2 separate regions of the Homo sapiens genome follow, and region 1 is linked to region 2. Evidence: fine-mapped expression QTL. Tissue or cell type: blood mononuclear cells. Region 2 holds a variant in brackets; the other region holds the start of a gene. All regions are shown on one strand. Distances are between the middles of the regions.

Region 1 (6,432 bases), 330 kb after region 2:
CAGCTCAGTACCTGGAGAACTGGACGCGCACAGCTGACCAACCGTGGCTACTTCAGAATAAAATTAACACTGAGTTACAAACTGAAGTGGCAATGTTAAAATCCACGGTCCTTTGGTTAGGAGAAAAAGTACAGAGCTTGCAGTTGCAGCATCAGTTGCATTGTCATTTTAACCACACTCATATTTGTGTAAACAACTAAGAATATAACCAAAGTGACTATCCATGGGACCTTGTGAAAGCCCATTTACAGGGAGCGTTCACATCCAACATCACCTTTGATATTGGTGAATTACAAAACAAAATTCTTGTTTTAAATAAGCAAACTCAAAAATTTCAACCTGCTTTAGAAGACTGGACCAAATTCCAGCAACGCCTGGCAAGCCTCAACCCTTGGACCTATCTAAAGCACCACATTAACAATTTATATGTAGTTCTTGGAATAATGTTGTTTTGTCTCTGTCTTCTGCTCATAGTCTGTAAAATCGGACGGACTGCCAATCAGAGAATGAGAGATGCCCAGCCTGGCCTTACATTCTTTCAATTAATACATAAACACAAAGGGAGAGATGTTGGGAGCCAAAAAGGCCAAAGGGATCATGATCAACTCAGCATTCCACTGGAGGCTATATGATCAAATAGCAAACTGTTTATCACTATCACGAATGCAGGATGTGAGCAAACTCACACTGCGCCTGCCACCAAAAGGTTGGCTGAGGGCCTCACTCCCTGGCACGGGGCTCCTTGAAGTTATCTACTGAGAAATCTAGTGTCTATTGTTCAAACGATGCAGTCTGGCAAGCCTGCTGTGAACCAACCAGCCGACTGACAATTACCCCACAATCACCCCCCATTTATCCCTATCTGTTTTGCCTAATAAATATGGAGGGCTGTGTAAAGCTCAGGGCCCTTGTCCACTAGAGGCAAGGTGCCCCCTGACCCCTTCTTCCAAACATACTCTTGTCTCTTGTCTTTTATTCTCACGTTCACCACCCTTTGTTGTTACCCTAAGTCCATGCAGGTTGCAAGTGGCACCCCTGATCAACGACAGAATCGGGTGCTCTACAGTCAGGGAGGGCCATGTTAAACCCTTTTGTAAGCCTTGGGTTTTGAGTGAGATGGGGAGCCACTTAGGTGTTGTGAGCAAATAAATGACAGAATTAGACCTTGTAACAACAAGAAAACCCTATGTGGCAGCTGAATTAAGTGGACAGAAGTGAGGCAAAGTGGAGGCAGGAGACCAGTTAGGCTATTCAAATAATGGAGGTGAGAGATAACAGCAGTTTGGCCCAGGGTGGGGACCATGGAGGCGGTAAAATTTAATGGTTAAATTCTCATAGATTTTGAAAGCACAGCTGACAAGGCTTGGTGATAGACATGCTATAGCACAAGAAAGGAGAAGTCAAGGATGACCCCAGAATTGTGGCCCCAGGAACTGCAATAGAATTACCAGAGAAGGTCATGGATGGAGTTGGGGGTGGGAGAAGAGTTGGGAGCTCAGCATTGAAGTGGTGCTTGTCAGAAATCAGAGCAGAAATGATGAGGAGCCTAAGGGTCAAGGAGAGGTGTGGACCAATGATAAAAATGTGGGCATCACTAGCATGGGCTCAACCACCAAGAGTTGAGCACTGTGTGGGCAGGGCCTCGTGCCTGTAAGAAAGATTCAATACACGGTACAGATTTTTCCTCTCCAGCTCTTCCTTCCTTGTTTTTTTTTTTTTTTTTTTTTGGTTTGTTTGTTTGGTTTTTTTGAGTCGGAGTCTCACTCTGTCGCCCAGGATGGAGTGCAGTGGTGCGATCTCCGCTCACTGCAAGCTCCGCCTCCCGGGTTCACGCCATTCTCCTGCTTCAGCCTCCCAAGTAGCTGGGACTACAGGCGCCCGCCACCATGCCCGGCTAATTTTTTATATTGTTATTAGAGAGACGGGGTGTGAAACCGTGTTAGCCAGGATGGTCATGATCTCCTGACCTTGTGATCCGCCCGCCTCGGCCTCCCAATGTGCTGGGATTACAGGCATGAGCCACCGCGCCTGGCTGTTTTTTTTTTGTTGTTGTTGTTTTTTTAATTGAAGTGAGCGATAGAGTCAAAACCTCTTTTTTTTTTTTTACGTTTTAGTTATTTCCTAGATTTCCAATCTCTCCAGGATGTGTTACTACATCACTATAAAGAATTTATAATTTACATTCCATAGTATGTTTGTTTGTTTATTTTGAGATGGAGTCCTGCTCTGTCACCCAGGCTAGAGTGCAGTGGTGCAATCTCGGCTCACTGCAACCTCCGAATCCCAGCATCCCGGGTTCAAGCAATTCTCCTGCCTCAGCCTCCCAAGTAGATGGGATTACAGGCGTGCGCCACCACACCCAGCTAATTTTTTTGTTTGTTTGTTTTTGAGAGGAGTCTCCCTCTGTCGCCAGGCTGGAGTGCAGTGGCACAATTTCGGCTCACCACAACCTCCGACTCCCTGGTTCAAGCGATTCTCCTGCCTCAGCTTCCCAAGTAGCTGGGAATACAGGCACGCGCCACCATGCCCAGCTAATTTTTTTTTTTTTTTTTGAGACAGAAGTTTGCTTTTGTCCCCAAGACTGGGGTGCAATGGTGTGATCTCAGCTCACTGCAACCTCCGCCTCCCAAGTTCAAGCGATTCTCCTGCCTCAGCCTCCCAATTAGCTGGGATTATAGGGTTGTGCCACCATACCTGGCTAATTTTTGTGTTTTTAGTAGAGACGGGGTTTCACTACATTGGCCAGGATAGCCTCAATCTCCTGACCTCGTGATCCGCCCGCCTCGGCCTCCCAAAGTGCTGGGCTCACAGGCGTGAGACACCTCGCCCAGCCTTTTTTTTTTTTTTTTTTTTAAACAGAGTCTTGCTCTGTCACCCAGGCTTGTGCCACCACACCCGGCTAATTTTTGTATTTTTAGTAGAGACGGAGTTTCACCATGCTGGCCAGGCTGATCTGGCCTCCATCTCCTGTGCTTAAATGATCCACCCACCTCCGCCTCCCAAAGTGCTGAGATTACAGGCATGAGCCACTGAGCTCGGCCCATAATGTTTTTAAAAAGTATATCTGGAGATATTGACACAATTATGAATGCAGGCTGTAACACTTAGTAATATGGTCAATAAATTATTTTGCAATTTCAAAGTATCATTACAAAACTAATTTAAAAAGCAGCCGGGCGCGGTGGCTCATGCCTGTAATCCCAGCACTTTGGGAGGCCGAGGCGGGCGGATCACGGGATCGAGAGATCGAGACCATCCTGGCTACACAGTGAAACCCTGTCTCTACTAAAAATACAAAAAAATTAGCCGGGCATGGTAGCCGGCGCCTGTAGTCCCAGCTACTTGGGAGGCTGAGGCAGGAGACTGGCGTGAACCTGGGAGGCGGAGTTTGCAGTGAGCCGAGATCGCGCCACTGCACTCCAGCCTGGGCGAGAGCGAGACTCCGTCTCAAAAAAAAAAAAAAAAAAAAAGAAAAAACTAATATAAAAAGCTGTTGAATTTCTAAACGCATTTCCAATTGACCTTTATCAATTGCCAATAGTTTTCAAAGTGACAAATGCTGAAATTTCTAACGTTACTTTGGAATAAGCAAATATCTCTCTTTGTTATAGATCATCTGTAAAACTAATGCCATATTGAAGAAAGCCAAAGTTATAAAACTAAATTTGTGAAACAGCCCTTTATTCTTTCCTTTTCTCTTTCTAGGATGGGTTGAATTAGTACTAAATTTGGGTTTCATAAGGGCGAATTTATCTTTGAAATGGATTTTCCTCCCATCAGGTAGTCTTAATTGCTTTATAAAAATCTAAAATCTAACACAGGTTTTTAAAAAGTAAATTTTTCAAGCAGTTCATTTCCTGATGTTCGGCCCAAAAGTAAACACTGAGTATATACATTTACTTCAAATTAAAAACTGACGACCGGAAAGCATACTTTTAAAGGTAATGTCCTTGTGGAAAAAGAATTAAGAATCACGAGAACGGAACTGCTATTTGCTACCTCTGGTTTTCCGTTCACAGAAGCACGAGGAGCCCAGCGCTGCGGCTCTGCCTCGCTGGGCCACCCCTTTCGGGCACGACCGGGAGCGGGTGCTCCTCACACCGAGCGCCCGGGCGAGCACAGCTGCAGCCTGCGGATGGAGCCCAGAGCCCTGCCCTGCAGATGACGCGCCGCTGCAGCTTCGCCCACCCTCCCACAAAATGGCTGCGGGTGGCGCCAGGGATGCTGGGCGCGCGCTCCTTGGAACTAGAGAGGAGGTGGCCGGGGCGGGGCCGGGGGAGGGGGGTAGGGCAGAGCCGGCGGGAGCCCGGCGCTGATTGGCCGGCCTGGCTGGCGGGCCCCCGCCGCTGGTTCGTAGCCGGCGCAGCGGCCTGGGCTGGGATGTGAGGAGCGGCGGGTTCCGGGCTCCGGGCTCTGGGTGGCGGCGGCTGTGAGCGGCGGCACTGCGGCGCAGGCCAGCGGGCGCCGTCGGCGGCTGGCCCTGTCGGCCGCGGGATGAGGAAGCGGACCGAGCCCGTCGCCTTGGAGCATGAGCGCTGCGCCGCCGCGGGCTCGTCCTCCTCCGGCTCGGCCGCCGCGGCGCTGGACGCCGACTGCCGCCTGAAGCAGAACCTACGCCTGACGGGCCCGGCGGCGGCTGAGCCGCGCTGCGCAGCCGACGCGGGAATGAAGCGGGCGCTGGGCAGGTGAGGCTTCGCGCGGAGCGGGGGGGGGGGGGGGGCCGGTCCCTCACTTTGCGCAGGTGCGTCCCGCAGGGGGCCGCGGTACCTCCCAGCCCCTCCCAGAGTGGCCGTCCGCCCGATCCGCGGCCGCCCCCGTCCGCGCCTGTGTCCCGCATTTGGCCCGCGGCAGCCCCACCCCCGCTCCCTTCCCCAGGCACCGCGGCGGGAGCGCCCTGCCCTGCCGCTGACCCCCTGTGTCCTGCTCCGGCCCTCTCGCCAGGCACTCCTGGCCTAGCCTTGCACCCCGACCCTTTCCCGGGGAAGCCGGGGGGACCCTTACGCTGGGGGCTTGGCGCCGCCCGAAGTCATGACCCCGCGTGGGAGAGCAGGGTAGGGGGTGGGGAGTCCTTGGAAGATCCCTGGACGCCAGGCACAGCAGAGGCGGGAGGCAGAGGGGCCGGCGCCAGACCCTGAGAGCGCTGGGGCCCACTCGGACCTCCTCCTCCTGCTCTGCATCAGGCCCCACACCGAGCGCCCGGGCGGGCGCCCCTCGGGCTGGGCTGCGTGCGCGGAGCCTTACTGGCGCCTTGGGCCCTCGGCGGCTCTCCCCGGTAACTAGGGTCGGGGGCGTGCGTCGCTCAGAACTCGGGGACCTTTGGGGAAGGGCTCAGTGGGCGGCGGGGTGCTAGGGGAAGGAGGGACTCGGAGCATCGCAGCCGTCGGAGGGAAACCTGCCCTTCGCTCTGCTGGTGATGGTTCGTGGTACTTGAAATCTGTCCGCACAAGTTCGCCTCCTTGGGAATCATCTCGCAGTCCTGAGTCGTTTGGTTATTGGCGTTCAATAACCTTTGGGTTATTGGGTAGAAGATGAATGCGTTTATATAAAGCCACTTTCAAAACTGAGATGGGAACGTGTTTCATAGGGACAGATTTCTCCTCCCATCTGCTGGTTTCCTAATTATCTGGCTGTTGTAGAACGTAGCATTCCTGACAGCTTTGAAGCCTTGCTACTTCGTGGTGGTTTGAAGAAGTTACTATATGATGATCTCAGGCGTTGTAGCAGAGGCACTTCTTTTTTGACCATCTGGAATGCCCTTAGTTGACGCTGGCCACTTGAGTGTAAAATATGCGTATCGCTCCTAAGGAAAAGTAGAATTTCAACTTCATTGCTTAAAAAAATCATGAAATTAAACTATAGACACTTCTAAGTCGATGGTTTGACAGAAGGGCGGAGACTGATAGTTTTGTGTCTTTATGTGTAAAATTATGTAGCATCTGATCAATATCTTTTGTGAAACTAATCTGTTCTCTTTGCTATGGAAAGATTTATCTGCATTAAAAACTCATGATTTAACTTTAATACAATTTTATTAACAGACATGGCATAACGCTTAGATAAATTGGAAAATTCTTCCTTCGAAAAAATCAAATTGCCGGGCGCGGTGGCTCACGCCTGTAATGCCAGCACTCTGGGAGACCGAGGCGGGCAGATTATCAGAGGTCAGGAGTTCGAGACCAGCTTGACCAACATGGAGAAACCCCGTCTGTACTAAAAATACAAAATTAGCCGGGCGTGGTGGCGCATATGCCTGTAATCCCAGCTACTCGGGAGGCTGAGGCGGGAGAATCGCTTGAATCTGGGAGGCGGAGGTTGCGGTGAGCCAAGATCTCGCCGAACCGAGATCGCACCAGTGCACTCCAGCCTGGACAACAAGAACGGAACTCCGTCTCAAAAAAAAAAAAAAAAAAGAAAAAATCAAATTGTTTTACA
Region 2 (8,472 bases):
GCTAGTAGAAATATTTCTGAGGACATGTTTTGTGCATAAGGAAATGAGTAAGAAGACATTTTCCCTACTTTTTGCAAAGACCTCAATCCTAAGGCTAAAATATGCATTACCTAATCTCATAATTCTATCTCGTTTTTTAAAATTTTAGATTCAGGGGTACCTGTGCAGGTTTTTTATATGGGTATATTTTCTGATGCTGAGGTTTGGGCTTCTAATGATCTGTTGCCCAAGTAGCAAACATAGTACCCAATAAGTAATCTCCCAACCCTTGTTCCCCATCCTTCCTCCCCTAATTTAGAGTGTCCCATGTCTACTCTTCCCATCTTTGTGTCCATGTGTACCCAACAACATCATATCTAATATGGGAAAGTTGAAAGCATTTCCTGTAAGAACTAGAACAATACAAGGATGCCGACTTTCACTATTCTTATTCAACACAGTACTGGAATTTCTTGCCAGAGCAATCAGGCAGAAGAAAGAAATAAAATGCATCCAAATTGGAAAAGAGGAAGTCAAGTTACCCCTGTTTGCTGATGATATAATATTATTCCTGAAGAACCCTAAAGATGCTGCCCAAAATTCTTAAATTTGACAAAGGAAGCAGTGAGCGTCAGGATACAAAATTAATGTACAAATATCAGTAGTGTTTATATACACAAATAATGAGCCAGCCAAAGGCCAAATCAAGAAAACAATCCCATTTACAATAGCTACAAAAAAATACCGAGGAATATCTTTGACCTAGAAGCTGAAAGACTTCTAGAAGGAGAACTACAAAACACTGATGAAAAAAATCCTAGATGACATAAACAAATGAAAAACCCCCACGCTTATAAATTAGAATATGCAATATCATTAAAATGACCATACTGTTCAAGGCAAACTACAGATTCAACACAATCCCTATCAAATTACCAATGTTATTTTTCACAGAATTAGAAAAAAAAATCCTAAAATTAATATGGAACCAAAAAAAGGGCCTGAACAGCCAAAGCAATTCTAAGGAAGAAGAACAAAGCTGGAGGCATCACATTACCTGTTTTCAAATTATACTACAAAACTATAGAAACCAAAACAGCATTGTACTGGCATAACATAGACACATAGATCAATGGAGCAGAATAGACAACTCAGAAATAAAGCCCCATACCTACAACCAACTTATCTTTTAAAAAGTCAACAAAAATATATTCTGGGGAAATGACACCCTATAAATAAGTGGTGCCAGTAAAATTGGATAAACACATATGGGATAATAAAACTGGACCCATACCTCTCAAAATATACAAAAATAAACTCAATATGGATCAAAGACCAAAGTGTAAGACCTGAAACCACAGAAATCCTAGAAGAAAACTTAGGAAAAACCCTTCCAGACATTGGTCTAGGCAAAGAATTAATGACCAAGTCCTCAAAAGCAAATGCAATAAAAATAAACAGACGAGATAATTTAACTAAAAAGTTTCTGCACAGCAAAAGAAATAATTAATAAAGTAAACAGACAACCTATAAAGTGGGAAAATATATTTGCAAACTATGCATCCAACAAAGCGCTTACATCCAGAATCTACAAGGAACTCTAACAACAAAACAACAAGAAACAACCCCATTAAAAAGCGGGCAAAGGATACAAACAGACATTTTTCAAAAGAGTACCTACAAGCAGTCAACAAACATGAAAAATGCTCAATATTTCTAATCATCAGAGAAATAAAAATTAAAATAGTAAAATACAATCTTATACCAGTCAGAATGGCTATTACTAAAAAGTCAAAAAAAACAAAACAGATGTTGATGAGGATGTGAAGAAAAGGTAATGCTTATATACTGTTGGTAGAAATGTAAATAAGTACAACCTCTACGGAAAACAATAAGGAGATTTCTCAAAGAACTAATAACAGAACTACCATTTGATCCAATTCCATTACTGGGTATATACCCAAAGGAAAAGAAATCAGTATATCAAAAATATACCTGCACTCATGTTTATCACAGACCTATTCACAATTGCAAAAAAAGAAATAAACATACATGTCCATCAGCGGAGAACTGGATATAGAAAATACTACTCAGCCATAAAATCATGTCTTTTGCAGCAACACTGATGGTATTGAAGCCCATTATCTTAAGTGAAAAACTCAGAAACAGAAAGTCAAATACTGCATGCCATCACTTGTAAATGAGAGCTAAACAATTGATACATATGGACATACAGAGTGAAATAATACGCATTGGAGACTACAAAAGATAGGAGGGTGGGAGAGAGGTGATGGTTGAAAATTTACCTATTGGGTACAGTGATCACTATTAAGGTGACGGGTACACTAAAAGCCCAGTCTACCCAACAGTATGCAATATATGCATGTAAGAAATCTGCACTTGTACCTACTAAAGAAATGAAAAATAAAAATTAAAAAGTATAACAAGTACAACTATGTAAGGTACATAATCTTTTATGGTGATTGGAGGCTCCCATTGAAAAAAAAACATAAGCCAGGATTCTGCTCCAAGACAGCCGAATAGGAACAGCTCCCGTCTGCAGCTCCCAGCATGATCAATGCAGAAGATGGCAATTTCTGCATTTCCAACTGAGGTACCTGGTTCATCTTACTGGGACTGGTTGGACAGTGGATGCAGCCCATGGAGGGTGAGCCAAAGCAGGGTGGTGCATCACCTTACCTGGGAAGTGCAAGGGGTCAGGGGATTTCCCTTTCCCAGCCAAGGGAAGCCAAGTCAGACTGAACCTAGAAAATCCGGACACCCTCACACAAATACTGTGCTTTACCTACAGTCTTAGCAAATGGCACACCCAGAGATTATATCTCGCACCTGGCTTGGCAGGACCCACACCCACAGAGCCTTGCTCACTGCTACAGCAGCAGTCTGAGATCGACCTGTGAGGCAGCAGTCTGGCAGTGGGAGAGGTGTCCGCCATTGCTCAGGCGTGAGTAGGTAAACAAAGTGGCCTGGGAAGCTTGAACGGGGCAGAGCCCACCGCAGCTCTGCAAGGCCTGCTGCCTCTGTAGACCCCACCTCTGGGGGTGGGGAATAGCTAAACAAAAGACAGCAGAAACTTCTGCAGACTTAAATATCCCTGTCTGACAGCTCTGAAGAGAGAAGTGGTTCTCCCAGCATGGTGTTTGAGCTCTGAGAATGGATAGACTGCCTCCTCAAGTGGGTCCCTGACACGCATGTAGCCAAACTGGGAGACACCTCCCAGTAGGGGCCAACTGACACATCATACAGGAGGGTGCCCCTCTGGGATGAAGCTTCCAGAGGAAGGATCAGGCAGCAACATTTGCTGTTCTGCAATATTTGCTGTGCTGCAGCCTCTCCTAGTGATATCCAGGCAAAGAGGGTCTGGAGTGGACCTCCAGCAAACTCCAACAGACCTGCAGCTGAGGGACCTGACTCTTAGAAGGAAAACTGACAAACAGAAAGGAATAGCATCAACATCAACAAAAGGGACATCCACAGCAAAACCCCATCTGTTGGTCACCAGCATCAAAGACCAAAGGTAGATAAAACAAGAAAAATGGGTCTTTGGGATGGATGGAGCCAAGATGACTGAACAGGAACAGCTCTGGTCTACAGCTCCCAACGTGAGCGATGCAGAAGATGGGTGATTTCTGCATTTCCATCTGAGGTACCGGGTTCATCTCACTAGGGAGTGCCAGAGAGTGGGCACAGGACAATGGGTGCAGTGCACCGTGCACGAGCTGAAGCAGGGCGAGGCATTGCCTCACTTGGGAAGCGCAAAGGGTCAAGGAGTTCCCTTTCCTAGTCAAAGAAAGGGGTGACAGATGGCATCTGGAAAATTGGGTCACTCCCACCCTAATGCTGCACTTTTCGGACAGGCTTAAAAAACGGCACAACAGAAGATTATATCCCACACCTGGCTTGGAGGGTCCTATGCCCATGGAGTCT[C/T]GCTGATTGCTAGCACAGCAGTCTGAGATCAAACTGCAAGGCGACAGTGAGGCTGGGGGAGGAGCGCCTGCCATTGCCCAGGCTTGCTTAGGCAAACAAAGCAGCCAGGAAACTCGAACTGGGTGGAGCCCACCACAGCTCAAGGAGGCCTGCCTGCCTCTGTAGGCTCCACCTCTGGGGGCAGGGCACAGACAAACAAAAAGACAGCAGGAACCTCTGCAGACTTAAATGTCCCTGTCTGACAGCTTTGAAGAGAGCAGTGGTTCTCCCAGCACACAGCTGGAGATCTGAGAACGGGCAGACTGACTCCTCAAGTGGGTCCCTGAACCCTGACCCCCGAGCAGCCTAACTGGGAGACACCCCCAGTAGGGGCAGACTGACACCTCACACGGCCGGGTACTCCTCTGAGACAAAACTTCCAGAGGAAAGATCAGACAGCAGCATTCACGGTTCACGAAAATCTGCTATTCTGCAGCCACCGCTGCTGGTACCCAGGCAAACAAGGTCTGGAGTGGACTTCTAGCAAACTCCAACAGACCTGCAGCTGAGGGTCCTGTCTGTCAGAAGGAAAACTAACAAACAGAAAGGACATCCACATCAAAAACCCATCTGTACATCACCATCATCAAAGACCAAAAGCAGATAAAACCACAAAGATGGGGAAAAAACAGAGCAGAAAAATTGGAAAAACTGGAAACTCTAAAAAGCAGAGCACCTCTCCTCCTCCAAAGGAATGCAGTTCCTCACCAGCAATGAAACAAAGCTGGACGGAGAATGACTTTGATGAGTTGAGAGAAGAAAGCTTCAGATGACAAAACTACTCTGAGCTACAGGAGGAAATTCAAACCAAAGGCAAAGAAGTTAAAAACTTTGAAAAAAATTAAGACGAATGTATAACTAGAATAACCAATACAGAGAAGTGCTTAAAGGAGCTGAAGATGCTGAAAGCCAAGGCTCAAGAACTACGTGAAGAATGCAGAAGCCTCAGGAGCCGATGCAATCAAATGGAAGAAAGGGTATCAGTGATGGAAGATGAAATGAATGAAATGAAGCGAGAAGGGAAGTTTAGAGAAAAAACAATAAAAAGAAATGAATAAAGCCTCCAAGAAATATGGGACTATGTGAAAAGACCAAATCTACATCTGACTGGTGTACCTGAAAGTGATGGGGAGAATGGAACCAAGTTGGAAAACGCTCTGCAGGATATTATCCAGGAGAACTTACCCAATCTAGCAAGGCAAGCCAGCATTCAGATTCAGGAAATACAGAGAATACCACAAAGATACTCCTCGAGAAGAGCAACTCCAAGACACATAATTGTCAGGTTCACCAAAGTTGAAATGAAGGAAAAAATGTTAAGGGAAGCCAGAGAGAAAGGTCGGGATACCCACAAAGGGAAGCCCATGAGACTAACTGCTGATCCCTTCACAGAAACTCAACAAGCCAGAAGACAGTGAGGGCCAACATTCAACATTCTTAAAGAAAAGAATTTTCAACCCAGAATTTCATATCCAGCCAAACTAAGCTTCATAAGTGAAGGAGAAATAAAATACTTTACAGAAAAGCAAATGTTGAGAGATTTTGTCACCACCAGGCCTGCCCTAAAAGAGCTCCTGAAGGAAGCACTAAACATGGAAAGGAACAACCGGTAACAGCCACTGCAAAATCATGCCAAATTGTAAAGACCATCAAGGCTAGGAAGAAACTGCATTAACTAACGAGCAAAATAACCAGCTAACATCATAATGACAGGATCAAATTCACACAAAGCAATATTAACTTTAAATGTAAATGGAATAAATGCTCCAAATAAAAGACACAGACTGGCAAATTGGATAAAGAGTCAAGACCCATCAGTGTGCTGTATTCATGAAACCCATCTCACGTGCAGAGACACAGATAGGCTCAAAACAAAAGGATGGAGGAAGATCTACCAAGCAAATGGAAAACAAAAAAAGGCAGGGTTGCAATCCTAGTCTCTGATAAAACAGACTTTAAACCAACAAAGAACAAAAGAGACAAAGAAGGCCATTGCATAGTGGTAAAGGGATCAAATCAACAAGAAGAGCTAACTATCCTAAATATATATGCACCCAATACAGGAGCACCCAGATTCATAAAGCAAGTCCTGAGTGACCTACAAAGAGACTTAGACTCCCACACAATAATAATGGGAGACTTTAACACCCCACTGTCAACATTAGACAGATCAACGAGACAGAAAGTTAAGAAGGATACCCAGGAATTGAACTCAGCTCTGCACCAAGCAGACCTAATGGACATCTACAGAACTCTCCACCCCAAATCAACAAAATACACATTTCTTTCAGCACCACACCACACCTATTCCAAAATTGACCACATACTGGGAAGTAAAGCTCTCCTCAGCAAATGTAAAAGAACAGAAATTATAACAAACTGTCTCTCAGACCACAGTGCAATCAAACTAGAACTCACGATTAAGAAACCCACTCAAAACCACTCAACTACATGGAAACTGAACAACCTGCTCCTGAATTACTACTGGGTACATAACAAAATGAAGGCAGAAATAAAGATGTTCTTTGAAACCAACGAGAACAAAGACACAACATACCAGAATCTCTGGGACACATTCAAAGCAGTGTGTAGAGGGAAATTTATAGCACTAAATACCCACAAGAGAAAGCAGGAAAGATCCAAAATTGACACCCTAACATCACAATTAAAAGAACTAGAAAAGCAAGAGCAAACACATTCAAAAGCTAGCAGAAGGCAAGAAATAACTAAAATCAGAGCAGAACTGCAGGAAATAGAGACACAAACAACCCTTCAAAAAATTAATGAATCCAGGAGCTGGTTTTTCGAAAGGATCAACAAAATTGATAGACCACTAGCAAGACTAATAAAGAAGAAAAGAGAGAAGAATCAAATAGACGCAATAAAAAACGATAAAGGGGATATCACCACTGATCCCACAGAAATACAAACTACCATCAGAGAACATTACAAACACCTCTATGAAAATAAACTAGAAAATCTAGAAGAAATGGATATATTCCTCGACACATACACCCTCCGAAGACTAAACCAGGAAGAAATTCAATCTCTGAATAGACCAATAACAGGAGCTGAAATTGTGGCAACAATCAATAGCTTACCAACCTAACAGAGTCCAGGACCAGATGGATTCACAGCTGAATTCTACCAGAGGTACAAGGAGGAACTGGTACCATTCCTTCTGAAACTATTCCAATCAATAGAAAAAGAGGGAATCCTCCCTAACTCATTTTATGAGGCCAGGATCATCCTGATACCAAAGCCGGGCAGAGACACAACCAAAAAAGAGAATTTTAGACCAATATCCTTGATGAACATTGATGCAAAAATCCTCAATAAAATACTGGCAAACCGAACCCAGCAGCACATTAAAAAGCTTATCCACCATGATCAAGTGGGCTTCATCCCTGGGATGCAAGGTTGGTTCAATATACGCAAATCAATAAATGTAATCCAGCATATAAACAGAACCAAAGACAAAAACCACATGATTATCTCAATAGATGCAGTAAAGGCCTTTGACAAAATTCAACAACCCTTCTTGCTAAAAACTCTCAATAAATTAGGTATTGATGGGACGTATCTCAAAATAATAAGAGCTACCTATGACAAACCCACAGCCAATATCATACTCAATGGGCAAAAACTGGAAGCATTCACTTTGAAAACTGGCACAAGACAGGGATGCCCTCTCTCACCACTCCTATTCAACATAGTGTTGGAAGTTCTGGCCAGGGCAATTAGGCAGGAGAAGGAAATAAAGGGTATTCAATTAGGAAAAGAGGAAGCCAAATTGTCCCTGTTTGCAGATGACATGATTGTATATCTAGAAAACCCCATTGTCTCAGCCCAAAATCTCCTCAAGCTGACAGGCAACTTCAGCAAGGTCTCAGGATACAAAATCAATGTACAAAAATCACAAGCATTCTTATACACCAATAACAGACAAACAGCCAAATCATGAGTGAACTCCCATTCACAATTGCTTCAAAGAGAATAAAATACCTAGGAATCCAACTTACAAGGGACGTGAAGGACCTCTTCAAGGAGAACTACAAACCACTGCTCAATGAAATAAACGAGGATACAAACAAATGGAAGAACATTCCATGCTCACGGGTAGGAAGAATCAATATCGTGAAAATGGCCATACTGCCCAAGGTAATTTATAGATTCAATGCCATCCCCATCAAGCTACCAATGACTTTCTTCACAGAATTGGAAAAAACTACTTTAAAGTTCATATGGAACCAAAAAAGAGCCCGCAACGCCAAGTCAGTCCTAAGCCAAAAGAACAAAGCTGGAGGCATCACACTACCTGACTTCACACTATACTACAAGGCTACAGTAACCAAAACAACATGGTACTGGGGTATCAAAACAGAGATATAGATCAATGGAACAGAACAGAGCCCTCAGAAATGACGCCGCATATCTACAACTATCTGATCTTTGACAAACCTGAGAAAAACAAGCCATGGGGAAAGGATTCCCTATTTAATAAAT

The links. PIP is the estimated chance that this variant, and not a neighbour inherited with it, causes the effect.
Region 1: it holds the start of ABHD12, and the variant in region 2 is fine-mapped to the expression of ABHD12 in blood mononuclear cells (TOPMed, PIP 0.92).

Annotation. Positions count from the first base shown.
Region 1 is chr20:25,388,766-25,395,197 of GRCh38, reverse strand. It overlaps ABHD12 (abhydrolase domain containing 12, lysophospholipase), which reads left to right and starts at 4,363. Exons shown (of 13, transcript NM_001042472.3): 1 at 4,363-4,685. The coding sequence starts at 4,495. LOC105372581 (a long non-coding RNA gene) reads left to right here. Exons shown (of 3, transcript XR_937403.3): 3 at 475-548. RefSeq lists silencers at 4,234-4,653, 4,694-4,743, 4,784-4,943, 5,114-5,273.
Region 2 is chr20:25,714,896-25,723,367 of GRCh38, reverse strand. The region is part of intron 1 of LOC107985400 (a long non-coding RNA gene); the gene reads right to left. Among named protein-coding and RNA genes, the nearest start is that of ZNF337, 22 kb to the right of the region's middle. RefSeq lists enhancers at 3,400-3,915, 3,916-4,431. The variant C/T (reference allele first, on the strand shown) is at 3,928.